Homo sapiens: one gene and its partners. The protein of the gene in region 1 interacts with the protein of each later gene in a pairwise test. Each region holds a gene or a part of one and is shown in the gene's direction. Other genes may lie near its edges.

The links.
Region 2: the proteins of PEX26 (region 1) and ZNG1C interact in binary tests that used the Homo sapiens proteins (3 or more experiments, as listed by UniProt).
Region 3: the proteins of PEX26 (region 1) and E2F8 interact in binary tests that used the Homo sapiens proteins (3 or more experiments, as listed by UniProt).
Region 4: the proteins of PEX26 (region 1) and LHX5 interact in binary tests that used the Homo sapiens proteins (3 or more experiments, as listed by UniProt).

What each region holds. Positions count from the first base shown.
Region 1 is NC_000022.11:18,080,975-18,088,002, forward strand, and holds part of PEX26 (peroxisome assembly protein 26), read left to right. Parts: intron 1-2,462; coding exon 2,463-2,758; intron 2,759-4,137; coding exon 4,138-4,284; intron 4,285-6,997; coding exon 6,998-7,028. UniProt on the Homo sapiens protein: Peroxisomal docking factor that anchors PEX1 and PEX6 to peroxisome membranes. PEX26 is therefore required for the formation of the PEX1-PEX6 AAA ATPase complex, a complex that mediates the extraction of the PEX5 receptor from peroxisomal membrane.
Region 2 is NC_000009.12:68,293,969-68,300,549, forward strand, and holds the end of ZNG1C (zinc-regulated GTPase metalloprotein activator 1C), read left to right. Parts: intron 1-3,611; coding exon 3,612-3,680; intron 3,681-3,783; coding exon 3,784-3,849; intron 3,850-4,995; coding exon 4,996-5,125; intron 5,126-5,512; coding exon 5,513-5,619; 3' UTR 5,620-6,067; downstream 6,068-6,581.
Region 3 is NC_000011.10:19,230,940-19,237,967, reverse strand, and holds part of E2F8 (transcription factor E2F8), read left to right. Parts: coding exon 1-114; intron 115-497; coding exon 498-654; intron 655-2,909; coding exon 2,910-3,224; intron 3,225-3,446; coding exon 3,447-3,608; intron 3,609-5,596; coding exon 5,597-5,734; intron 5,735-7,028. UniProt on the Homo sapiens protein: Atypical E2F transcription factor that participates in various processes such as angiogenesis and polyploidization of specialized cells.
Region 4 is NC_000012.12:113,461,853-113,468,880, reverse strand, and holds the end of LHX5 (LIM/homeobox protein Lhx5), read left to right. Parts: intron 1-476; coding exon 477-754; intron 755-1,459; coding exon 1,460-1,625; intron 1,626-5,323; coding exon 5,324-5,691; 3' UTR 5,692-6,848; downstream 6,849-7,028. UniProt on the Homo sapiens protein: Plays an essential role in the regulation of neuronal differentiation and migration during development of the central nervous system.

The sequences.
Region 1 (7,028 bases):
CGTCTGCTTCTATGATATCAACTTTTTTTTTTTTTTAAAGATTCACATGAGTGAAATCATGTAGTATTTATCTTTCTGTGCCTGGCTTATTTCACTTAACATGATGTCCCCCAGGTCCACCTGTGTTGTCATGAATGACAAGATTTCATTCTTTTTTATGGCTATATAGTATTCCATTATATATATATATATATATATATATGCGTGTGTGTATATATATACACATATATAAACACATATATACACATAATATACATATATGTACACATATACACACACACACACACACACACACACACACACACATTATCCATTCATCTGTTGTTGGACACTTAGGTTGATTCCATATCTTGGCTGTTGTGAATAGTGCTGCATTAAACAGGGGAGATAATGGATTGCTAGATCATGTGGTAGTTCTATTTTTATTTTTTTCACCTGGCCATTCTTAAGTTTATTTTGATGACACCCGGTGACAGTTCCCTGTACCTAGAAGAAGGTGTTGGGACTCTTGATGTTGGAGTGTGGCTTGTGCTGAAGACACAGGACCTGGTAGGGCAGCAGGAACTTGATCTTGGAATTGTGGAACTGCTTGACTGTCGGCCGGTGGCAGTACCAGAAGCGGGACTTGGCACAACTTGCTTAGGTGCAGAGATTTGCTGGCAGTAGAGGGGCAGCATGTGGCATTTGGGGGTGGGCAGGCAGCAAATACTCTCTCAGTGTGCCCCAGGCCTTCATGGCATTCTCTCAGCACTTGCCACCACTTACAAAAAGGAAGTGCCGTCTTTCCTATTTTGAATTTTTTAAAGGAACCTGCATTCTGTTTTCCATAATGGCTGTACTAATTTACAGTCCCACCAACAGTGTGTAAGTGCTGCCTTTCTCCACATCCTCACCCGCACCAACACTCGTTTTCTTTTGTCTTTTTGATAAGAGCTGTTCTAACTGGAGCGAGGTAGTGTCTCATTGTGGTTTTGATTGGCATTTCCCTGATGATTAGTAGTGTTGAGCATTTTTTCATATACCTGTTGGCCATGGTACGTCGTCTTCTGAGAAATGTCTGTTGAGGTCTTTTTCCCTTTTGAATCAGGTTTTTTTTTTTTTTTTCTGCTGTTAAGTTCCTGATATATTCTGGATATTAACGCTTTGTCAGATGGATAGTTTGCAAATATTTTCTCCCATTCTGTAGGTTGTTTCTTCACTCTTAATTGCTTCCTTTGCTGTGCAGAAGTTTTTAGTTTGATGTCATTTCATTTGTCCATTTTTGCTTTTGTTACCAGTGCTTTTAAGGTCTTACTGAAAAAAACACTTGCTCAGCCCAGTGTTGTGAGGCATTTCTCCTGTGCTTTCTTCTAGTAGTTTCATGGTTTTGGATTTTACATTTAAGTCTTGAATCCATTTTGAGTTAATTTTTGTATGTGGGGAAAGGTAGGGGTCTGGTCTCCTGCATATGGATATCCGATTTTCCCAGCACCATTTATTAAAGAGACTGTCTTTTCCCCTGTGTGTGTTCTTGGCACCTTTGTTGAAAATCAGTTGGCTGTAGGTGCATGAATTTATTTCTGGGCTCTCTGTTCTGTTCTATTTTGTCTGTTTTTATGCCATAACATGCTGTTATGGTTACTGTTATAGCTTTGTGTAGTATGGTTTGAAGTCAGGTAATATGATACCTCCAGCTTTGTTCTTTTTGCTCACAACTGCTTTAGCCATTTGGGGTCTTTTGTGGTTCCATACGAATTTCAGGATTGTTTTTTCTGTTTCTGAAGAATGCCATTGGTGTTTTGATAGGGATTGCATTAAATCTGTAAATTGCTTTGGGTATTTTAATAATATTCTTCCAATTTGTGAATGAACACGGGATATCTTTCCATTTTTTGTGTGTCCCCTTCAACTTCTTTCATCAATGTTTTATAGTTTTCAGTGTAGAGATCTTTTGCCAGCTTGGTTTAATTTATTCCTAGGTATCTTATTTTTTTGGTAGCTATTGTAAATCGAATTGTTTTCTTGATCTCTTTTCCAATGGTTCACTGTCACGTATAGAAACGCTGTTTTTTGTACATTGATTTTTGTATCCCACAACTTTACTGAATCCGTTTATTAGTTCTGTCTGCAAACAGGGATAACTTGACTTCCTCCTTTCCAATTTGGATACCTTTTATTTCTTTCTGTTGCCCGATTGCTCTGGCTATGACCTCCAGTACTATGTTGAATAAAAACGGTCAAAGTAGGCATCTTTGTCTTGCTCCTGATCTTAGAGGAAAGGCTTTCAGCTTTTCCCATTGATTATGCTGTTAGTGATGGGTGTGTCGTGGGGAATTCCCATGAGCATCATCATTTCATCGGAAAGGGCTCGAGGACACAGTGAGGAGGGGCTGGATAGGAGAAGCATAGTGGTCATGGGAAATGAACCAATCATTGAGCACTGACTCTTCTTTTGTTGGGATTGGGTTTTTTGGGGACTGCAGCATTCTTTTATACAGCAAAATGCAAGAGCCTGGAGCTGTGCTGGATGTGGTGGGTGCCTGGCTCCAAGACCCAGCCAATCAAAACCTTCCAGAATATGGAGCCTTGGCAGAATTTCACGTGCAGCGGGTGCTGCTGCCTCTGGGCTGCTTATCGGAGGCTGAGGAGCTAGTGGTGGGCTCTGCAGCCTTTGGTGAGGAGCGGCGACTGGATGTACTTCAGGCCATTCACACAGCGAGGCAGCAGCAGAAACAGGAACACTCAGGCTCTGAGGAGGCCCAGAAGCCAAACCTGGAAGGTAGGACATTATCCCTCTGCGACCTCTGTAAAGTGGACTTGCGGGCTTGCACTGTACCTCGGGGTCTGTCGTGAAACTCCTGCGAGCTTAGAAGCAGTTCTTTGTATGAATAACTCTTGAGTCACAGAATAGGAGGCCTGTTGATTTGCTTCACAAAGTGAAGGCCAGACCCTCTGAAGTTGGCAGTGGAAGGAGAATCTCCACATGGGAAGGTGTTGCTGGGTCTTGGGACCTTGACTTGTCTTTTGAAAGTCATTTTCCCATTGGAGTCCTCTGATGAGGTCTCTTGCTTCCACCATACTGGTCTGGGTGGGATGTCCTTCCTCCTTTAAATGCTGGCCCCAATACAGACACAGCTGAGATCTGCTGGGATAGCCAAAGGAATATCAGAAACTAATTTGCAGACCCTTTCCCTGGTCGCTGAATCTTTTCCGCCCTTTTCCTTGAGTGATGATCTAGTCTAGTTGTGAATACTTCAAGGACAGAAAGTCACCATCTCTCTCTCTTTTTTTTTTTTTTTTTTTTTGTTTGAGACGGAGTCTCGCTCTGTCGCCCAAGCGGGAATGCAGTGATGCGATCTCCGCTCACTGCAAGCTGCACCTCTCAGGTTCACGCCATTCTCCTGCCTCAGCCTCCTGAGTAGCTGGGACTACAGGTGCCCGCCACCACACCTGGCTAATTTTTGTATTTTTAGTAGAGACGGGGTTTCACCGTGTTAGCCAGGATGGTCTCAATCTCCTGACCTCGTGATCTGGCTGCCTTGGCCTCCCAAAGTGCTGGGATTACTGGCATGAGCCACTGCGCCTGGCCTGAAAGGTTCTGAAAGGTTTTAAAAAACTTTTACAAAGATGCATTCAATATAGTAAATAATATATAGTCAAAATAAGTAATAAACACGAGGAAAACAATTTATATTCATGAGATTTGCAAGAGTATGTGCAGTTAAGGAATGAAGGCTTTAGCCAATACCTAATACCCTTTTACTAAACTCTTTTTTTTTTTTTTTTGAGACGGAGTTTTGCTCTTGTTGCCCAAGCTGGAGTGCAATGGCACGATCTTGGCTCACTGCAGCCTCCACCTCCCAGATTCAAGTGATTCTCGTGCCTCAGGCTCCCAAGTAGCTGGGACTACAGGCGCACACCACCACGCCTGGCTAATTTTTGTATTTTTAGTAGAGACGGGGTTTCACCATGTTAGCCAGGATGGTCTCGATCTCCTGACCTTGTGATCCACCTGCCTCAGCCTCCCAAAGTGCTGGGATTACAGGCATGAGCCACTGCGCCTGGCCTGCTCAGGTCTTAGAAGCAAGCACAGAGGTCGGGGTCAGGGAAGCTGATTCCCATGACATCCCTGAAGCTGTGCTCTGTCTCCCTGGCCAGGCTCTGTCTCCCACAAGTTCCTGTCACTACCGATGTTGGTTCGCCAGCTTTGGGACTCTGCGGTGAGCCACTTCTTTTCTCTGCCCTTCAAAAAGAGTCTCCTGGCTGCCTTGATCCTCTGTCTCCTGGTGGTGAGATTTGATCCAGGTAAGAGGTGGAGACTCTCCCCTGTCCTTCCTGGGAAGGGGTTGTTGCCAGGGCTGGGCCTGTGGGAGTGGGTGTTTGTCAGAGTCCTACTGGGGAGGGGAGTCTCTCCTATGACATTTCCCCTGAGTCTGTTCCACAAGGAGGAATTGCTAGACTGGGCATGAGCCAGCCCCACCCATAAGGAGAGGCCAGTCCTGGAGTCTATGAGAGCAGCCAGGAGAAAGTCCACTTGGCCCTGCTGACTCCTGAACATGGACTGAGTCATAGTCCTCCACTTTTTCTAGGGCTGAACTCTGACTAGAACCTCAGAATTTAAAAAAACTTCCTCTTGGCCAGGCACGGTGGCTCACGCCTGTAATCCCAGCACTTTGGGAGGCCAAGGCAGGCAGATCACAAGGTCAGGAAATCGAGACCAGCCTGGCCAACATGGTAAAGCCCCATCTCTACTAAAGATACAAAAAAAATTAGCCAGGTGTAGTGGCACATGCCTGTAGTCCCAGCTACTTGGGAGGTTGAGGCAGGAGAATAGCTTGAACCCGGGAGGCGGAGGTTGCAGTGAGCCAAGATCGCACTGCTGCACTCCAGCCTGGGCAATAGAGCGAGACTCTGTCTCAAAACAAAAAACAAAAAACAAAAAAACTTCCGCTCATCAGAATATCTACAAAAGTGTTAATTCAAGTATTAATGTCTCATGAAGTGTTAATTCAAAGCAAGTTGTAAATGAAAAACTCATACATTTTAGAAAATGTGGAAAATAGGCCGGACATGGTGGCTCACACCTGTAATCCCAGCACTATGGGAGGCCAAGGAGGGTGGATCACCTGAGGTCAGGAGTTCGAGAACAGCCTGGCCAATATGGTGAAACCCCGTCTCTACTAAAAATACAAAAATTAGCCAGGTGTGGTGGTGCGTGCCTGTAATCCCAGCAACTGGGGAGGGTGAGGCAGGGAGCATTGCTTGAACCCAGGAGGCGGAGGTTGCAGTGAGCCAAGATTGCACTGTTGCCCTCTGGCCTGGGCTACAAGAGCGAAACTCTGTCTCAAAAAAGAAAAAAAAATGTGGAAAATAGAGAAAAGTATAAAGAAGGGCATAGAAATCTGCTACTCTGCTGTGCTTTCAGTCTTTTTCTATGGATATAGAGATTGTAGGCAGTTACATGTCACACATATGCTTTCAAGCATGGCCTTAAATCGCTAACTATTCCAGTTCACAGGAATGCCCCTAAGTAATTTAACAACCCCTATTATTGAACATTTGGGTGATTATTCTGTTTTCTGCCTCGCTGTGAAGAAGGAATGAGCTCCCTAAGTGATATTTGGGAACAACCCCAGTTATTTCCTGAGGATTGACCCCTCAGGTGCATGAAGCCAAACTTGGCACTCGCTCTTTTAGATTTTTTTGTGTTACTCAGTGTGAGTTATGTTCTAATCTCTACTCTTCTCATGAATTTAGACTTAGAATATGATTAAATAAGTTTCAAAATTTAAGAGGAAATCAGAAACCCTTATACTGGTCCCTTCAAATGGTTTGTCTATTTTGAGAAGTGCCATTTGTTAACTTAGTCTTTAGATTCTCCCTGTTTCCCCATTTCTCTTTCTCTTATTCAGTGAGCTTTTTTAAAATATTTATTTATTTATTTTTATTTTTATTTTATTTTATTTATTTAGTTTTTGATACTGGGTCTTTCTCTGTTGCCCAGGCTGGAGTGCACCGGCGTGATCTTGGCTCACTGCAACCTCTGCCTCCTAGGCTCAAGCGATCTTCTCTCCTCAGCCTCCCAAGTAACTGGGACTACAGGCATGTGCCTCCATGCCCGGCTAATTTTTTATTTTTATTTTTGAGACAGAGTCTTGCTCTGTTGCCCAGGTTGCAGTGGCGTGATCTCGGCTTACTGCAACCTCCGCCTCCTGGGTTCAAGCGATTCTCCTGCCTCAGTATCCCAAGTAGCTGGGATTACAGGCACACACCACCATGCCAGGCTACATTTTGTATTTTTAGTAGAGACGGGGTTTCGCCATGTTTGCCAGGCTGGTCTCCAACTTCTGGCCTTAAGTGATCCTCTCACCTCAGCCTCCCACAGTGCTGGGATTATAGGCACAAGCCATCATGCCTGGCCAGCGAGGTTTCCGTCACATAGCTCAGAGTTGTCCTTCTAACCCGTCTGCTGAATGCTGAGCAGGGATCCCCTGTGGACGACTCTGTTTGCTTTACAAAGAAGTCACGAGTTAGCGCTCGGAATGCTCAGTATCATCAGCGTTCATCCCTGGCCACCTCCTGACTGATACAGATTTAGAAACTCTTTATGATTCTTTATGGTTCCCGTAAGCCCTTTAGTCTCGTAAACCCTGGTCTCCTAGTGGGGATGGCATGAGGACATTTGAGCCTGCTCTTTCCAAGGCTGCTTCAGAAGGGCCTGGCCCAGTGGCCCTGACCCTCAGCAGCAGGCCCGACTCATTGGAGTGATGATGGTGGGGGAGGAGAACCTGCACCTGCAGGCTGAGGATCGCATGAGCCCCAGAGATTGAGGCTGCAGTGAGCTGAACACAGACTGCACTGTACTCTAGCCTAGGTGACAGAGCGAGACCCTGTCTCTAAAAAAAACAAAACAAAACCAACTATGTGTAATTGGTAGTGGAGTCTCCCAGGGTGGGAGATGGCAGAGTGACAGGTGAGAGGGGTGGGACGTTCACTGTAGTCTCCCTCTGCCCTGCAGCTTCCCCTTCCTCCCTGCACTTCCTCTACAA
Region 2 (6,581 bases), on another chromosome or scaffold:
AAATTATATCAAGCACTTTCTCAGACCACAGTGGAATAAAACTGGAAATCAACTCCAAAAGGAACCTTCAAAACCATGCAGATACATGGAATAACCTGCTCCTGGATGATCTTTGGGTCAAAGATGAAATCAAGATGGAAATGTAAAAATTCCTCAAACTGAATGACAATAGTGACACAACCTATCAACCTCTGGGATACAGCAAAGGTGGTGCTAAGAGGAAAGTTCATAGCCCTAAATGCCTACATCAAAAAGTTGGAAAGAGCACAGACAATCTAAGGTCACATCTCAAAGAACTAGAGAAACAAGAACAAACCCAGCAGAAGAAAGAAGATCAGAGCGGAATTAAATGAAATTGAAACAAAACAACAAAAAAATCCAAAAGATAAATGAAACAAAAAGCTGGTTCTTTGAAAAGATAAATAAAATTGATAGACCGTTAGCAAGATTAGCCAAGAAAAGAGAGAAAATCCAAATAAGCTCAATAAGAAATGAAACGGGAGATATTACAACTGACACCACAGAAATACAAAAGATATTCAAGGCTACCATGAACACCTTTACATGCATAAACTAGAAAACCTAAAATAGATGGATAAATTCCTGGAAAGATACAACCCTCCTAGCTTAAATCAGGAAGAATTACCCTGAACAGACCAGTAACAAGCAGGGAGATTGAAATGGTAATTAAAAAATTACCAACAAAAAAATGTCCAGGACTAGACGGATTCACAACAGAATTCCACCAGATATTCAAAGAAGAATTGGTACCAGTCTTAAAGACACTATTCCACAAGAGAGAGAAAGAAGGAATCCTCCCTAAATCATTCTATGAAGCCAGTATCACCCTAATACCAAAACCAGGAAAGGACATAACCAAAGAAGAAAACTACAGACCAATATCCTTGAACATAGATGCTAAAATCCTTAAGAAAATTCTAGCTAACTGATTCCAACAACATATCAAAAAGATAATCCACCATGATCAAGGGGTTTCATACCAGGGATGCAGGGATGGTTTAACATACACATGTGCGTAGCCAAAGCAAGACTAAGCAAAAAGAACAAATCTGAAGGCATCACATTACCTGATTTCAAACTTATACTATAAGGCCATAGTCACCAAAACAGCATGGTACGGTTATAAAAATAGGCACATGGACCAATGGAACAGAATAGAGAACCCAGAAATAAACCCAAATACTTACAGCCAACTGATCTTCAACAAAGCAAACAAAAACGTAAAGTGGAAAAAGGATACCCTTTTCAACAAATGGTGCTGGGATAATTGGCTAGCCACATGTAGGAGAATGAAACTGGATCCTCCTCTCTCACTGTATACAAAAATCAACCCAAGATAAATTAAAGACTTAAATCTAAGACCTGAAACTATAAAAATTCTAAAAGATACCATTGGAAAAATCATTCTAGACATTGGCTTAGGCAAGGATTTCATGAACCCAAAAGCAAATGCAATAAAAACAAAGATAAATAGCTGGGACTTAATTAAACTAAAGAACTTTTGCAGAGCAAAAGGAAAAGTCAGCAGAGTAAACAGACAACCCACAGAGAAGGAGAAAATCTTTCATAATATATACATCTGAAAAAGAACAAATATCCAGAATCTACAATGAACTCCAACAAATCAGCAAGAAAAGCAGTCCCATCAAAAAGTGGGCTAAGGACATGAATAGACAATTCTTAAAAGAAGATATACAAATGGCCAATAAACATATGGAAAAATGCTCAACATCACTAATGATCAGGGAAATGCAAATCAAAACCACAGTGCGATACCACCTTACTTCTGCAAGAATGGCCATAATAAAAAAATCAAAAAAATAGTAGATGTTGGCATGGATGTGGTGAACACGGAACACTTCTACACTGCTGGTGGGAATGTAAACTAGTACAACCACTATGGAAAACAGTGTGGAGATTCCTTAAAGAACTAAAAGTAGAACTACCATTTGGTCCAGCAATCCCACTACTAGATATCCACCCAGAGGAAAAGAAGTCATTATACAAAAAAGATACGTGCACACGCATGTTTATAGCAGCACAATTCGCAATTGCAAAAACGTGGAACCAACCCAAATGCCCATCAATCAATGCGTGGATAAAGTAACTGTGATATATATACATACAATGGAATACTCCTCAGCCATAAAAAGGAGTGAATTAATGGCATTCACAGTGACCTGGATAAGATTGGAGACTATTATTCTAAGTGAAAGAACTCAGGAATGGAAAACCAAACATCGCTATGTTCTCACTCATAAGTGGGAGCTAAGCTATGAGGATGCAAAGGCATAAGAATGACACAATAAACTTTGGGGACTCAGGGAGAAAGGGTGGGAAGGGGATGAGGAATAAAAGACAAAAATTGGGTGCAGTGTATACTGCTCAGGTGATGGGTGTACCAAAATCTCACAAATCACCACTAAAGAAGTTAACCAACACCACCTGTTCCCCAGTAACCTATGGAAAGAAAGAAATGTCTCATATGTTTCTGCCTAAATTGGTCTTTAATACTTTAGCGATTCTCTTGAGTTTGGATTATAAAATAGTTTTTGGTCTTTTTGTATTTTCTGCTGTAAGCCTGTATGATTATGTAATGGTGAGTAAAATTGCTAGGCCAGATACGCAGTTCTAGGAAGTTATGCAAAGATGTGCTTTAGTATATTATTTTCTACCTTTTTAAATTCATTTTGAGCTTGGCTTTTGAGCCTCTATTTTCCAAGGTGGGGTGTATGTTTTTATAATGTTATGCTTAGCCCTTGTGTATTTTCATCTCTGAGTTTGAAATTTGGGGTTATATTGGCAAAGGGAGGTTTGGGTTTTAATTAGGTGACCTGTTAGAGGAAATGTTAAGCTTCTGTTTCTTTAGGGTAGACAGTGAGAGATTTATCAAGATAAAGAAGAAAAATAAATCCTAAAGTTAATATTCAATACATGATGATGTCACCCTTACTAAAGCCAAAGAGGGCATTATCCTATCATTCTCATCGCTAAGAACTCTTCTCCTCTTGGCACATGCTTATTCAGTTAAAGATAAGCCAAGCCTTTCTTTTGTATTTTTTTTTTAAGAGAACAAATTTACTTTGGTTTTGAGTTTTATTCCTGGCTCTGGGTAGCTTATTTTTTTGACCCTTATTTTCCCCAATTTATAAAATGAAATAGTTATCTTCACTCCCCAGGATTGTTGTGAAGAGTAAGTCAAAAGATACAATGAGGTGACTCAGGCAAAAGTACCTGGCCCTGTGTAGTGAGTACATTGTATGTGTTACATATATTCTTATTCCTGAGAATCCACGAAAGAATGAATTAAATAATGAGGACCCTTTCATCAGGGTTTCTGAGTGAGTTTTTTAAAATACAAGGTAGTAGTTTGTGTAAATACTAAATCCATTGGTACCTGTGCAGAATGTAGGAAATGGAGTTGCTAATTCCAAAAAAACAGCACATATGCTGAGGAAAGTATAATACGTAATATATATGGTTTAAGCAATGTAAAATTCCATGAATATGTTCCTTTCATCTTAAAATTTGTGATTTAAAAAACATTGATATTACTATAAAGAATTATTATTATTTCCCTTGATTTACAGAGTATTGTTACAATCACATTTGAAGTACCAGGAAATGCAAAGGAAGAACATCTTAATATGTTTATTCAGGTGAATGCAATTTTTAACTGATTAATGATTTATCAATGGTTTTGTTACATAGTTGTTGCTATTAGCGATGGTTGGTCTTATTAAAATATGTCACTTGATACAGAATCTTCTGTGGGAAAAGAATGTGAGAAACAAGGACAATCACTGCATGGAGGTCATAAGGCTGAAGGTACAGTTTACTGTTGCAGACTTTTGGACAAAGTCCTTTTCTTGGCTGTTATAAAAACTATATTTGGTTTTAAACAGAAACACTGGTTTTAGTACAAATCATCTTTGTCTACTTTCATTTTTCTTTATTATTTTCATGACTGAAAAGGAGCTTTGGAAATCACTGCATAAGGCTTGATTTATTTGCACAACTTTCTTTAGGGTTGCAGCTAGAACAAACCTGTGTGCTTTGAAATGTTACCTTCTGCTCTCTGTTCCCAAGTACAGAGAAATAATGTTGCAAATCTCACTTCTGCTGAACATTATGCTTCCTGATGCATTTAGCAGACACTAAACATTTGTTGTACTCTAAACAAAGTTACAAAGGACTAGAAGAATTCTTGTTCTGTATTTAGAAACCCACTCACATTACTTGATATTTGGGTATTTAAGTCATGAAAGGTATTTCTTCTAGGAAGCAGTGATTCTAAAGTGTATGCTTAACCAGTCAGTTGAGTGTCTACTCTTGTGTGTTCACAAGTGTGCACAAAGTTTTTGGTAAATTAAGAATATTATTTCAAATAAATTAATTTCATCCCCATAGGAGCCAGTTTATCAGATAATTCGTTTCTCATTTCTGCAAATCAATACACAATGAGCTCATATTCAGATAAATTGAGCTCATATCCAGATAAATATAATAGTTTTTCTTTATTTCAACATTGTTCATTGATTGCAACCCATTTCTAAAACAAATTATTTAATATAACAAAACTCCTTTAACTTCTCAACTTTTCCCACTAAAACTGTGAAACATTATATAAAATCTTTAATCAATAGGATATGATACATATTTCATCATTTTGTTTCAGGTTTTGGTTGTGATAAATAACACTGAAAAACCATCCTAATATATGTATTAACTTTATCATTAGAAAAGGGGATTGTTCAAAAAAAAATCAATACACAGAAACCTTTTTTGAAAATTAAAAACATTAAGAAACTTCTTGTAATTCACAAATAATTGGAATTAAGTAATTTTCTCAGCTTAAGAGTTTGTATTTTTTAAGTGAATATCAGTAATTAATCCATTAACATTGATGCTCTATTTCTGCTTTTAAGTTTGAACTGAGGCTGATTAATGTTCAGTCAATTCTCCTTTGAGCAGGGATTGGTGTCAATCAAAGACAAATCACAACAAGTGATTGTCCAGGGTGTCCATGAGCTCTATGATCTGGAGGAGACTCCAGTGAGCTGGAAGGATGACACTGAGAGAACAAATCGATTGGTCCTCATTGGTAAGTCTCAAAGGATTCACAGTTTTGAAACAAAGTGAAAAATATATTTGAAAGGGATATCATGTGCCACTTAAACAGATTAACCATTCAGGTCCTCTTTTAAAACTAAATAAGCTTGTGGTCAATGTTTCATCTTTGTCACATTACAACGTTCGTAAAAGCTTGTTAGGACTTTTGTTCTTCTTCAATTTTAGAAAAGTGGTTAATCCAAGGACCAATGTGACTTTGATGTACTGACCTGGAAAGTTAAAGATGGAATCACTCAATTACTATTCTTTTTGTAAATTTTTAAACACCATAAAGCATTTAATGAACTGGAATTGATAGGTGAACTGTGTCATTTTAATAAGCATAATGTAATCACGTCATATTTTGTTTTGTTTGCAGGCAGAAATTTAGATAAGGATATCCTTAAACAGCTGTTTATAGCTACTGTGACAGAAACAGAAAAGCAGTGGACAACACATTTCAAAGAAGATCAAGTTTGTACATAACACTAGAGGCATTTCTTATCAAAAGGATTGGATAATAAAAATAAGTTTCTACTGGGTATATTTCAAGCATTTATTTATTACTTTAGTTACGAATTCCAATATACTTTAAAATGGTATTTGTTTTACAGCATACATAAAATGTAGCAAATCAGTACTGTAAAACATTTAACATTCATACAATTATATATAATATCCTTTTTTTTAAAGAATGGTATTTCACAAAAATATCTTTTGAAATTGGCTTTGGAGTTTACATATACTGAACATGAAAGTTTATAATAATGATGATACAACTTTCAACATTGTCATTTTTTCTTAGAACTTCAGCTGATTGCAGAGATATAATGATTACATTGTTATTAAATTTTTTTAACACAAGTAAGTGTCACCATTTTATGACATGAAATAAAAGGTTATGACTGTTATTGATGTTGATGTTGACGACCTGATCACCTGGCTGAAGGAGTGTTTGTCAGGTTTCTCCATTGTAAAGTTACTCTTTTCCCCCATTTCATACTGTGCTCTTTGGAAGGAAATCACTATGCACAGCCCACACTAAAGGAATGGGGAGTTGTAGTGTACTTTCTTGGGAGTGGTCTACATAATTAATTGAAATTCTTCTGCGAGGGACAGTTGTCCCTTTCGCTTTATTAGTTCGATCATTTATGTTTATCAGTGTGGACACATGAATATTTTATACTTTGGGTTACAATTTAATACTACTTTATTTTGTTGCTCAAATTATCCCAGCTTTGACCATTGGGAACTCTTTCCGTTATCTCCTGTTCCCCCCTTTGACATACCCCCATCAATGTGGGTTTTGTGTTTTGTTTTTGAGCGCCTCCTTATTTTTCTCCTGTATTTTTAAATAACCCCAATCCCTATTGAAGCTGGCTCTAGGAAAACTAACAATACTCCCTTTCCCAGGTCATCCGATTCCTATGCTGATGGAGGAAATTTGC
Region 3 (7,028 bases), on another chromosome or scaffold:
GCCAACCTGAAAATGCTCATCAGTGCTGTGAGCCCTGAGATCCGCAACAGAGATCAGAAAAGGGGTTTGTTTGACAACAGAAGTGGATTACCTGAGGCCAAAGACTGTATACACGTAGGTTTTCAGAGGACTGGTTGGAGGCTGGGGAATTTGTTGGGGGGAGGGGGGAGGTTGTAGCTATTAGAGAAGTGCCAGCAATTTAAAGCATCACCACCCGAAGGCTGTTATTAACTTCCTTCGGAGCACCAGAAAGGTTTGGACCCCAAGAAATATAGCTCTGGGAATTCTGAACCTTTGCGTTATTTTCGTTTCAGGCTTTCCTTTCAGGTTTGCCAAGCATTTTGTACTGGCCCCCCTAACCTTTTCTCCCATCCAGACTTTGCAGCTGTTGAAGCTAAGCGTGTGTAAGTTGGTGTCAGTCATCGAGCACAGATGCCCCTAATAAATCTGTCAGACTTTATTTTAGAATAAGACATTGTTTACCTTTTCCTTTGTAGGAACACTTATCTGGAGATGAATTTGAGAAATCCCAACCAAGTCGAAAAGAGAAAAGTTTAGGATTATTGTGTCATAAGTTCTTAGCACGATATCCTAATTATCCCAACCCTGCTGTGAATAATGACATCTGCCTTGACGAAGTGGCAGAGGAACTTAGTAAGTATGCAAAGAACTCACTGAAAGAATTAATAATTAAAGTGGCTTTATGGACTTAACTCCTTCAGACCCCCGCTCATCTAGCCAGTGTTTGTAAATGACACAAATAAGCCGGCATGGAAATTTTCTATCTCTAAAGCCCTCTTCTAATATAAGAATGAAGGTAAGTAGTTGCAAATTTCAGCAAATCTTGGAGGCAGAAAAGTCACAATGGAGGTTGCTTCTGACTACAGTTGTCTCTGAAGCTTTAAAGAAAGGCAATATTGTCTCATGACTTGTTTCACAAAGTTACAACTGTGAACTTTTGCTTCATTGCTCTCCCTTGCTGTTCTTGAAGAATCAGGCTGATAAATGGTTATCTTCCTAGTTGACGCTGAGGATCAGCTTCTGTGAGTGGGAACAGGACCTGTGCACTCCTGGACCTTCAGCACTATTCTGAGGACTAGTTTTCTGAATGTTTTGTGTTGGGCACAAGTTATTCCTCCTGCCCCTTTTTACTCTGTTCAAAGACCTGAATCTATTTGGAGCTAAAAAGGGGCCCGTGGTGAATTTGGGGTACCTTTGGAGTCATGTGGGTATCTTAATTTAAACCTGTGAAGTGATGTGCTGTGCAAGATAATACATTTTAATACAAAGCAATCACCCCGTGAAGAAAAGTTGCCCTTCTAATACATGTTTGTAAATATCAACTTTATTTCACATTTTAAGAATATACCGTTTAGATTCATCTACTTTTCATATATGCTTAATGGTAGCTGGGTAGGATATTCAGCAAATATCTATTAATCTTCTACTACTATGTGTCAGGCAATGTTGTAGGAGCCTGGGATACATCCGTAAACAAAAAGGGCAAAATCTCTTCTCTCTTAGAACCTATATTCTAGTGGGGCAATAGATACTGAGTAAAGGATATAGGAAGTAAGTAAGGATAATACATGCTAGAAGGTAACATGCATAGTGGAAAAAATAAATTGTAGATCAGGATCAAGGGATCAGGAGTGCTGGGGAGGTGCTTTGCCATAAGTGGTCAGATCAGGCTTCGTTGAGAAGGTGACATCTGGGCAAGGACTTGAAAGAAGCAAGGTAGGGAGCTGTAAGGACATCAGGGAGAAGGGTTCCAGGCAGAAGGAACAGCCGGTACAAAGCAAGTGCATATCTGGCAGGTTCCAGGGACAGCAAGAGGTCGGTAGGATGCACCCTTATTAAAATAGTGTTTTATTGATCACTTTTCCAGAAAGGCTGATCTCATCAAATATTTAAATTGAAATTAAGTTTCTTGAACGAAGAGAATTCTAACATTACAGAATATTGAAAACCCAATTTAAATAGATAGAGTCACAGAATTACTAATATCATATTGTTAATGATAGCTAGAAAGTAAGCAAAATTAGACCCAAAAAGGCATATTTTATTTTTATGTAAGTTTTTAAAAACTACATCATGGTTTTTGTACTTTTCTGAAATCTCAGCATTTTGTTTCTATCTTATGATCATTACAGATGGGCGTGTGTGTACGTGTTTGTATTGGAAGCGGTTGGAAGGTGTGAGATGTAGAGTTTTAAAGACTTGGTTTGCTACTTGCTAGCTCTTTTGGGGTGAGCTACTTAGCTGGTCTGAGCCTCTGTTTTCTCATCGTTTTTTTTTTTTGTTTGTTTGTTTGTTTTTGAGACGGAGTCTCGCTCTTTCGCCCAGGCTGGAGTGCTGTGGCGCGATCTAGGCTCACTGCAAGCTCCGCCTCCCGGGTTCACACCATTCTCCTGCCTCAGCCTCCTGAGTAGCTGGGACTACAGGCACCCGCCACCACACCCGGCTAATTTTTTTGTATTTTTAGTAGAGACTGGGTTTCACCATGTTAGCCAGGATGGTCTCCATCTCCTGACCTCGTGATCCGCCCTCCTCGGCCTCCCAAGGTGCTGGGATTACAGGTGTGAGCCACCGCACCCGGCCTTTCTCATCCTTTTTAAAGTGCAGATCATAATACCTACTTCACAAGTTTAGGGTGAAAACTTCCTAAAGCTGTGTAGCACAACTTAGGCCCTCATTAAATGTTGCCTTTCTAATTCATATGATTTGTGCCCTTGGAAAGCAAGCACATGTCTTTCTCACCTTCACAGTATTTGTTGAGTATGTTCACTTACAGTTAGGAAAGTGATATTATCCAAGACCTACTGACTAATAAACCAATGGAAGAAAAAGCTATTCAATTCTAAACACGTTACAAAAATCTGTAACACACAATTGCACATTCTTTGTAGATGTTGAACGTCGACGCATTTACGATATCGTGAACGTCCTAGAGAGTTTACATATGGTGAGCCGCCTCGCCAAAAACAGGTACACTTGGCACGGGCGACACAATCTCAACAAAACCCTTGGCACCTTGAAGAGCATCGGGGAGGAGAATAAGTACGCCGAGCAGATTATGATGATCAAAAAGAAAGAATATGAGCAAGAGTTTGACTTTATTAAGAGTTACAGTATAGAGGATCATATCATCAAATCAAACACTGGCCCAAATGGACACCCAGACATGTGTTTTGTGGAACTCCCTGGAGTGGAATTTCGGGCAGGTGAGAGATGGTAGTGAAAACTCCAGGCGGCATGGCATTTGTCCTCTGTCTAAGGAAAAGGTTCTGTGGAGAACACAGCTCTAAAGCTACTGCTGCCTTTAATGTTCAGATGCCACAGTTGTCAGCTGTATGATCAGGTGGTAGTATTTTTAGCCTTGTTACTTTAGAAGTCACTTGTCCCTTTATGAATTTTAATTCTCTAATCCTCATCCTTCTCTAAAGCTTCTGTAAACAGCCGCAAAGACAAGTCTTTAAGGGTAATGAGCCAGAAATTTGTGATGCTGTTTTTGGTGTCAACGCCTCAGATAGTAAGCCTAGAAGTTGCTGCCAAGATTTTAATTGGGGAGGACCATGTGGAAGATTTGGATAAAAGCAAGTTTAAAAGTAAGTGTCATGACTGCCATGGATTTTTGAACCTATTCTTAAACAATAAAATCTCAGTCGTAAACTCATTTCCAAATTAGGAAACATAGGTGCATAAACAGATCTTCTCTAATTATGTTTTTATATCTTCTCCCCAGAAGCCATGATAATATTGATTTAGCTAACTTGTTATGATACATAAGTATCACTACTCTTTTTTTTTTTTTTTTTTTTTAGACGGAGTCTAGCTCTTTTGCTAGGCTGGAGTGCAGTGGCGAGATCTAGGCTCACTGCAACATCTGCCTCCCGGGTTCCAGCAATTCTCCTGCCTCAGTCTCCGGAGTAGCTGGGATTACAGTTGCGCGCCACCACACCCGGCTAATTTTTATATTTTTAGTGGAGACGGGGTTTCACCATGTTGGCCAGGAGGATCTCGATCTCTTGACCTCGTGATCCACCCACCTCGGCCTCCCAAATTTTGGGAGGCCTCCCAAAATTACAGGCCTGAGCCACTGCGCCTGGCCAAGTATCACTACTCTTATTTGACACATTGCTTCATTTGATATTGTAACATTGTTCTCAAAAGTAAACACGGCCAGGCGCGGTGGCTGAAGCCTGTAATCTCAGCACTTTGGGAGGCCGAGGAGGGCGGATCATGAGGTCAGGAGATCCAGACCAACCTGGCTAACACAGTGAAACCCCGTCTCTACTAAAAATACAAAAAAATTAGCCGGGCGTGGTGGCGTGCACCTGTAGTCCCAGTTACTCAGGAGGCTGAGGCAGGAGAATGGCGTGAACCTGGGAGGCGGCGCTTGCAGTGAGCCGAGATCGCGCCACTGCACTCCAGCCTGGGGGACAGAGCAAGACTCTGTCTCAAAAAAAAGGAAACACTAGAAGAATCTGTTCTGTGTGAGCTCTAAATGAGAGTAAATTGTAAAGTGGGTCTGCACCCTGGTCTCCTTCCACTGATGCTGATTACAGAGGGTTTATAAATGACTCATAAAATTGTCCCCAGAAGTGACCTGCAGCACAGGTAGTCTGCCATTTTGAAAGAATGGTTTTAGCTAGATTACCTGCTCAAAATTGGGAAGGGACTGTAGATTGGATTCCTAACAAAAGAGCTATGCCCTCACCATTACACCAGACTTTGCAGGAAGGGTGTGGAAAGAAGTGCTCAGCGGATGGGGAGGAGCACTTGGCTCGGGAGATCGGGAGATCTGCAATTTCAGAAAACACGTCCTGATACTACTGAGGGGTTACTTGCCTTTTGTGAGTCACCGGATAGTTTTCATCTTTGTTTCACTGGTTAGTCATAGCCTTGAAAACTATTCCAGGAACTGCAGAGGTGTAAGTTACTGAATCCCCAGGGAATTCAGAACCTTCTGATATGGCTAGGAAGGAGACTCGATTTGTAATTTGTACTATCAAGATGGCAGTAAAAAACAGACTTTTTGTAACAAAACTCTTTAAGATATGTGAGGTTTGTCAAGTTCACAGATCTATGTTTTGCATGTTACATAGACAGTATTAAAAAATTACACATGTTGATGGAGTACAGAATTTTCCATGCTGCCATAGTAAATAAATTTTGTTATAAGCTATTACAAGCAGAAAAGCAAGACATTTATCACAGATACTTTTACTTCTCTGCTCATAAAATTCTTCTGAATCCTCATTAGAAGATACCCAGGAATGGTGACTTTATTTTTGAAACAGTCTGTAACATAGTTTCAGATAGGGTGATCTCATCAAGTCGTTTTTCCTTTGTCAACGTATGCTATTGTCATTTCAACATTGAGTACTAGCAGTAATTGAGTCTTTTAAATATTTAAAACTTTTTTATCTTAATTAAAGTTGTATCACCAGAAGAACTTAAAAGGAGGCAGATGTTTCTCTGTCTGACATTGATGGTTAAGACAGCTCTTAGAATATACATGAAGTCCTTCTGAAGGAAAATTCTTTGATCTTTTCATTATTCCATTAAGTGGTATATATACTTTTTTTCCCAGCAAAAATTAGGAGGTTGTATGATATAGCTAATGTTCTGAGTAGCCTGGATCTTATCAAGAAAGTTCATGTTACAGAGGAAAGAGGCCGAAAACCAGCTTTCAAATGGACCGGCCCAGAAATCAGTCCAAATACCAGTGGTATGTATTTTTTTCTTTCACCCTCTGCTTTATTATTTGTGTGTGTGTTTTTCTAATTTTTAATTTCCAGTGTGTGTTGTTCCCCTCCCTGTGTCCATGTGTTCTCATTGTTCAACTCCCACTTACGAGTGAGAACATGCAGTGTTTGATTTTCTATTCCTATGTTAGTTTGCTGAGGATGATGGCTTCCAGCTCCATCCGTGTCCCACAGAGGACATGATCTCATTTCTTTTTATGGCTGCATAGTATTCCATGGTGTATATGTACCACATTTTCTTTATCCTGCTTTATTATTTTGAATTAATGCACATTGGGAGATATTTTCCCTTCCCCTTCCTACTCACCGCCCCACATGGAAAAGATATATATGATTGAAAAGATGATTCAAGATGAATGGCAATATAGAAAGTTTGGCTACTGGCTCCATCAGCTAACCAAGATCCATAACAACCTCCCACCCTGTGTTCAAGAAGTACAATCTGTATGTGAAAGCATTCGGAAAGTTGAAAGCACCACAAAGCATAAAACACTATTGCTGCTATGCGGCACAGTGACCACAACAGAACCTGTGCCCATTGAGAATATGAAATGAGTTCACTCTGGTATCAAAGTAGATATTTCTAGCCTTCATCTTAACTCTGCGATGCTGACATTTTGCATTCTACCAAAGATCCCCACCCAGAATCATTGAAAATGACAAGAACGTGGGCCATGAAGACAGAGGGAAACTTAGGTTCCATTCCAAGCCCTGCCACTCTGGCTTTGCGGCCTGAGACAAGCTACTTCTTCGAGGATTAGTTTTCTCCTTGGTGAAATGGGAAGAACAATGGCACCTCAGTGGAGTTACTGTGATTTTGGTATAATCTCAGAGAGAGGTCCTTTCGTGCAGGAATTTGGAGTGAAAATTCCGGGGCCATATTGACCAGGTTCATATCCCAGGCCCACATGCTCCCAGTTGAGAGACCTTGAGCCAGTAGGTTAATGTCTGTGTGGGTCAGAGCTCTCATCTCCGACACAGGGCTGCATTTCTTGAGGAACAGTTACCTCATGGAGCTGTGAGGATCACCCATATTTCATCAGATCTAAGACTTCACTGATTGTAAGATGCACAATTCTTTCTATATCACTAAGAAAGAAAAATCACTAATAACTACACTCTAGCACACCACTGGTTATAAGATATAGTGCAGTTTCAGAAATGCTAATGTAGGAAATATTGTGTCTCAGAATCCATTTAATAAGATAAACAAGGCTTTCTCTGTAAAGCCCTTAGAACAGTGACAGGCACATGGTC
Region 4 (7,028 bases), on another chromosome or scaffold:
CTTTTCCAAGTTGCCCTCCTCCCCTAATTTGGAAGCGCACAATTCCCCCTTATGTGTCACTTGAGCTCCAGGTAATTTCTTGATGCACTGGAAGGACATTAATTGAGGTCTGGAGAGAGGAGGGAAGAGAGAGGAAGATCCAAGCCCCAAGGGAATCTGTGCCCTCCTTGTCCCCTCTCCTTGAAAGTGGGAGTTCTCCAGAGGGTACGCGTCCCCCTACCCTTACCCAGGTACTAGCTGAGACGCGCGGAGAGGGCTTAAGAGCGCCCCTCCAAAGGCCCAGCCCCGCCTGGAGAGAGTGGGCGGGCACCGGGTCCCTGGGGGAGGGGCTGTCGCAGGTTTGGGAGGGAATCCAGCGGGGCTGGCCGTAGCCTGGGCAGGCCGTAGCTTGGGCCGGCGGGAACCCGCCACTGGACTGAAGAGGCGTCTGGCCGTCGCTGACGCCGCTGTCCCCTTCCCGATCCGTCCGCCCGCAGTGTCATCCTGTACGGACCGCAGTTTGTCCCCGGACCTCCAGGACGCACTGCAGGACGACCCCAAAGAGACGGACAACTCGACCTCGTCGGACAAGGAGACGGCCAACAACGAGAACGAGGAGCAGAACTCGGGCACCAAGCGGCGCGGCCCCCGCACCACCATCAAGGCCAAGCAGCTGGAGACGCTCAAGGCTGCCTTCGCCGCCACGCCCAAGCCCACGCGCCACATCCGCGAGCAGCTGGCGCAGGAGACCGGCCTCAACATGCGCGTCATCCAGGTGCGGCCCGGGGCGGGCACAGCTCCTTAGCCCCGCTGGCCTGGGAGCCGGGAGCCTCGGAGGAGTCTCCCGCCAAGCTTCCTTGGCTACGAGCGCGCCTGGTTCTGGTCTGGGAGCAGACCGTGCGCCCGAGTGGGGCACTTGCCCGAGGTCGGGGACTGTGAACCGAAAGATTCCATCTAGCCCTGCTGTCCTCCTGGTATTGCGATTTGGGGGCGGGTCACTTTACCTCTCTGAATTCCGCCCCCCGCCTTGCTTATGGAAGGTTGTAAGCCTCTCTGGGGTCCGGGATCCCTCTTTACCTCCACCTTTCGAGCAGAGAAACAGGCGATGCCCCCTCCCTCCCTGCGCCGAAGCGCGGGCAGACAAACGGCCAGAGGCTGGCTCCGGAGCCGAGGGGCCGAGGCGAGAGCCGTGCCGGGAGGGAGGCCTTTATAGAGCCGTCAGGCCGCGGGCGAGCCGGGGACCAGGAAGCCCAAGTCTTTATGAGTCGCCCCACGGGTCCGCGAAATCCTTCACCCTTGGCTGGTTCGCCGAAGCCTCTCTCCACCCCTCCCGGCCTAATCCGGCCCGGCCCCGCCTCGGGGGAGTCCTGGTGCGGAAGAGGCGCAAGGACCCAGCAGGGGCAGCCCAGTCAGGGAAGGGAGAAGAGGGGGGGAGAGGACACTCCTGATCCTGGGTTCACAGCCCCCTCCTCTGTCCCAGGTGTGGTTTCAGAACCGACGGTCCAAAGAACGCCGGATGAAACAGCTGAGCGCCCTAGGCGCCCGGAGGCACGCCTTCTTCCGGAGTCCGCGGCGCATGCGTCCGCTGGGCGGCCGCTTGGACGAGTCTGAGATGTTGGGGTCCACCCCGTACACCTACTACGGAGGTAAGGGGCGCCCCGGGATTCGCTGTTCCGCACCTGTCCTATTCCGGGAGCTGAGGGCGAAGGGTCCCGGCCAGCACGCTTTCCGCCGCTCCAGAACATCGCCCACTCGCTGGACACACGATCACAGACACATGTACACTCACCCACATGTCCTGGACACAAAATCAGATACATGGTCTCACCCATACAGTGATGCACACAGAAGCACACACGAGATACAGTGACACATTCACCCACGCAGGGCACAAGGTGCACTCACACTTGCGTTCAGAGACTCCAGGGACACACGTCTAGACACGATCGCACGATCACGTATAGGTAAATTCCACCCTCTCACACACAGGTACACTCACGGAGACACAACTCCACAGACGCGCACACTCCCACCAGTCACACTGAGGCCAGTACTGGCAAATCCACATGCATGCGGCCCCCACGGACAGACGCACAGCCTTCCTGCCGCCCTGTGCCTGGTGTACTTGGCATGAGGTGGATTCCGAGCGCTGGAGGGTAGTGTGAGGGGAGGGGATGGGGGTCTGGATTCATTCCAAGCCGCCTGCTCACTAGCATCGAAGGCAGCAACTCCTGTTCCATGTGGCGGGGTGTGTGCGCACAGCATCTGGCAGTGTTAGCCCAAATGCCGGCAGTTGCTCTGGGCAGGACTGTAGTCCACCCTCCAGCCCCGAGACCCCTGGGGTTCCTACAGACTGGGGGCACAAGTGTTGGGCCAACCCCAGATTTCCACCGTCTTTGGGGCTGCAGAGAGCGAGGAGCCCCAGTTTACAAAGGGCTTCAGATGGTGGTACCAGGCTTGGGCCTGGGGTGAGCTGTCCCCTTGCCACCTCAGCTTTTCCTCCTCTCACTTCCCTCACACTGGATTGGTGAGCCATCCCAACTCCCCCTATCCGATTTTTTCAGCTCCTTACCCTGAGCCGCATTGCTTGAGCTCACCAAGCTCACTGTCCTGTTCTTCCCAGGGCTGAGGGCTCAAGAAAGCACCTCTCCTCTTCTATTCTGAAGCTTCTGAATTTGGAGAGACCCCAGGACTGTCTATGTCTGAGAGGCATCTGCACTTCTGAGTTGTAACGCAGGTTAGGAAGAGGCAATTTCTCTTAGAAAGTGGGTTCAGTGGCAGTGTTAGCAAGGCAGGAGCTAGGCACCCAGGTAGACGCAGAAGGGAAGGGAAGATAACCCCATCACTAACCTCAGCACATCCGGAAGCCTGAGGGGGGATTAGACCTTGAGACCGGACCGGGGCCCCTAGAAATTGTGGGCAAAATGCCAGGCTGTGCTTTTCAGGGCAGAGACCCCAGGCAGTGGCAGGGCTCAGGCTGGAGCGCCCCAGCCGCCCAACCCTGGACAGCCCCCCAACCCTGGACAGACCCCCAACCCCGGACAGACCCCCAACCCTGGAGAGCCCGGATGGTGGGCGTGTCTTCCGGAGTCTCCACTCACCGACTCTCTCCACCTAAATTTGCCTCTTTCCCTACAAAATCTGGGCCCGGAGCAGCGAGGTAGTGGGGGCGGTACCGGCCCGGAATTTTTCCCCGCCTGGATAATTAACCAAGGTTTCCCCGAGGACCACTTCGCCCCCGCCCCGACCTATCCCACCGCCTCCTCTCCCTGCGCGCTGGATGAGGTGGGGAGCTGGATACTGGGGGCCCCTCGTTCCCCGTAATGGTGGGGAAGACTCCCCAGCCCCCAGCGAGGCAGCCCCGCCTAATCCGCGCTGGGAGATCCCGGCGGTGGCGACCGGCAGCGGGCGAGAAAGGGGCCGGGCGGCGGGGCCGGCGGCTCCCCGTGGGAGCGCGGACAAAGCCCCAGCTGCGGCTTTTGTGCCCTTTTCAGACGGCGTTTGTTCCAATTACCTCCGGCCCGGCCGCCATATGGGCGGAGGCGGCGCGCACGGCGCGGGGGCAGCGGCCTTCGCTGGTTTTCCGGCTCGCCGCGGGCCGCGGCCGTCTCCCATCCCTGTCCCTTTGGGGCTCCAAATTTGCCGCTCCCCATCTTCCCCTTCACTTTCGGGGAGAATTAAATTAATGGTTTTAAAAAGTAATTGGCAACCGTTTTAGCTGTTGCTTAAACTGCCTCCAAGCCACGCCTCCAGACACCCCCCATTTGGACAGATTTCAGGGTTTGGAGAGGGAAGAGGGTGGCAGGGGGCATCAGGAATTCGCCCCTTGACTGAGATCCCAGGACTCAGCAGGGGGAGTGGATTTGCAGAAGAGACTCAGGCTTCTGGACTCGCTGGTTTTCCCGCCGTACAAAGCGGGTGCCTGGTACAAGGTGGTCCTTTCGTGACGTCCCCCACGTCAGTCCTTCAGGGCCCCACCTGGTGGGGGAAGGCAGGATATCCCGAAGGTTCTGGAAAAGGGGCTATGTGGGGCGGTCAGAGAGTTGATACAGATTTGTTGAGGCAGAATGGGTTTGCAATCCGGAGTCCCTACACCTCCTGAATTTATGGGCAAAATTCTCATCCTTGCATTTTCCTTGAGAGAGAGCCCATAGCTATCACCAGCTTCTCAAAAGATCTCAATGTCCTCAGATGCTTCAGAACCTGGGGGTGCTGGCAAAACCAACCCGGGGCAAGGCTGGAGGACCGAGCTTCTACCCCAAGGAGCCCGCGGAGCTCTGGCCATGACCCAGAGAATCTTCGTGTCCTCCTCCCCCTCTCCCAAGTCGCTGGAGCTCAGTTTTCTCTTTCTCAGGCTAGGCTAGGCCGGTACAAATGGTCTCACCGGGATCGACGCGGCGGCCGTACTTGGCGAGGCGAAGGACTTGGACTGGGTTGGTAGGGCGCAGGGACCGAGTTTAGGGCGCCAAGGCCGCCCCGCCCGGCCCAACCCACCAGTCGCTCCTGCCGCGGCCCGGATCCAGTTTCCCCCGGCCAGGTCGCTTCCCGGTCTCAACCATTTCGCGCTCTGCTCTGTCCGCTGGTTTGTCCCTGCCCGGTTCCTCTCCCCGGGCCTGTCAGCCTCCGCTTCTCTGGAGGTTCCTGGGACTCATCTCTGATCCACCGTCTTGCGTTCTCTGGGCGCATCGACTTCTCTCCATCTTCGGGCTCACTCCTGACTCCCTCGCTGCCGCCCCCGGGGGTTTCCACGCGTGTCTCTAACCGCGGCCGTCTTTCCTCTCTCTGCGTCTCCTCGACTCCTCCGCGACCCTCCGATGTCTCGGGCTTTCGGGTCTCAGCCGCGGACTCCGCGTCTCTGGGTCTCTTTTCCGCCTTTCTCTCTGCCCCTCTGCCGATCTCTCCGTCTGTCTCTCGCTGTCCCGCATCTCTGTGTCTCTCACCGACCCTAAGACACTTAGGAATCATTGTCTGTCTCTGCGTCTCTGGCCGCCTCTGTCTCTCTCCATCTCTAGGTGTCAGGGAACCTGTGACTGAAGTCTCCGAGTTTTTGCCGCGTGTGTCCCCCACGGTCTCGGAGTCTCTCCCGTCTCTGTGTGTGGTCTCTGGCAGTCTGAGTCTCTTGCCCTTTCGAGATCTCTCATTGTCTCTCTCCCCAACCCTCCCCGTGAGCCTGCGACGTCCACCGTCTCAAGGGGCGCCGGCCTCCGCAGGTCTCTCTAACCTTGGGTCGGTGTCGCGCGCTCCCCTCTCTCGCCCGCCCGGGTCCCCTCCCCGGGTCCCGGGTCCCCCGCCTACTTCGCCTTCTCTCACCGCGCCCTGTCTCCTTCCCGCTCCCCCTCCGCAGACTACCAAGGCGACTACTACGCGCCGGGAAGCAACTACGACTTCTTCGCGCACGGCCCGCCTTCGCAGGCGCAGTCCCCGGCCGACTCCAGCTTCCTGGCGGCCTCTGGCCCCGGCTCGACGCCGCTGGGAGCGCTGGAACCGCCGCTCGCCGGCCCGCACGCCGCGGACAACCCCAGGTTCACCGACATGATCTCGCACCCGGACACACCGAGCCCCGAGCCAGGCCTGCCGGGCACGCTGCACCCCATGCCCGGCGAGGTATTCAGCGGCGGGCCCAGCCCGCCCTTCCCAATGAGCGGCACCAGCGGCTACAGCGGACCCCTGTCGCATCCCAACCCCGAGCTCAACGAAGCCGCCGTGTGGTAAGGCCGCCGGGCCGCCCCCCGCGCTCGGCCCCCGGGGGCCCCGCCCCGAAGCAGCCTCCTGAAACCAAAACGCCCGACGCAGACGCGGTGGGAGACGTGGGTGTCCCTCGGGGGTTCTCTCTCGGGTCCGCACTCAACTGGCAGCTGCTCCTCGGCTGGGCGCCGAGGGGGGGCCGACCCCCATCTCCACCCCGCGGGCTCTCCAGGAGCCTCAGCCCACCGCCAGTACTCTCCCAGCAACCGCGAGCAATTTCTTGGGACCAAAGTCAATACTCCGGAGGGTCAAGAGATTTCGAGCACGCTCTAGACTTTCCCCGGGCCCCCACCCACCCACCCAGCCACCGCCACCTCTTTGGACTGAGAGAGGGTGAGGCCAAGGGGCGGAGACGGTGTTTTTCCCTCTCTCTGCAATCCGAGTGGCATTTTGTAATCTTATTTCTCGCTGTGCTTTCCCCGTCTTTAAAAAAAAAGATGATAAGAAAAGGAGAGAGATTGAAAGAGAGGGAGAGGAAAGGGGGCAAGATGAGGAGGAGATGGAGAGACAGCGTCAGCCAGAGGGAGAAGACGGAGAGCGAGCGAGGAACTCGCGTGAACCGGGAGCCACCGAGAGGGAGACCGAGCCACCTGCACGCTGGCGCTCCCTGGTGGCCAATCTTGAGGCTCAAGGTCAGCTTCTCTAGGAATAGGGCTGTGGGTCAGGAAGTGGCCAGCCGGGTCCAGCTCCCGCTCTTCCTTACTTTGACGTTTATGTTGAGCCCGAGGGAGCAGGCCGGACTCGAACACGCACACATCCTGCTCTCCCCCTGGGTGGGGCGCCAGGATTGCTGGGCTCAGACCCACAGACCACCCTCCCTGCCCAGGGCCTGGAGGCTGGGCCGTCAGGATGTACAATATTATACTTTTTTGGAAGTTGAACGCTTCTAGTTTCCTTATTTTGTATAAAGAAGAAACAAATAAAGTATGTTTTTGTGTTTACTGTTTATTTATTGTACTCTAGTTATCCGGGGTTGGACATTTTTATATTTTTAAGAGGAGGTAGGGCAGAGTGACGGAGGGGAAGCAGAAAGAGGTTTACCTAAAAAAAACAAAAAACAAAAACAAAAAAAATCAACTTTTTTTAAAGAGAAAGATTAATAAAAAAAAATCTTTTTTCCCTCAGCGCTGTGTGGTTTTCTTTTTTTGTCCCTACCTTGATAACGACTCAGAGAGAATGAAACCATTCCTTTCCCTGGTTCTGGTCTCTGACATTAAACCCTTGATGGGTGCAAAAACCTCTGCTCACCCAAAGGGGGAGCTCTTCTAGTGACTCCCAGGTTCATGAAAGTGACTGTCCTCTTT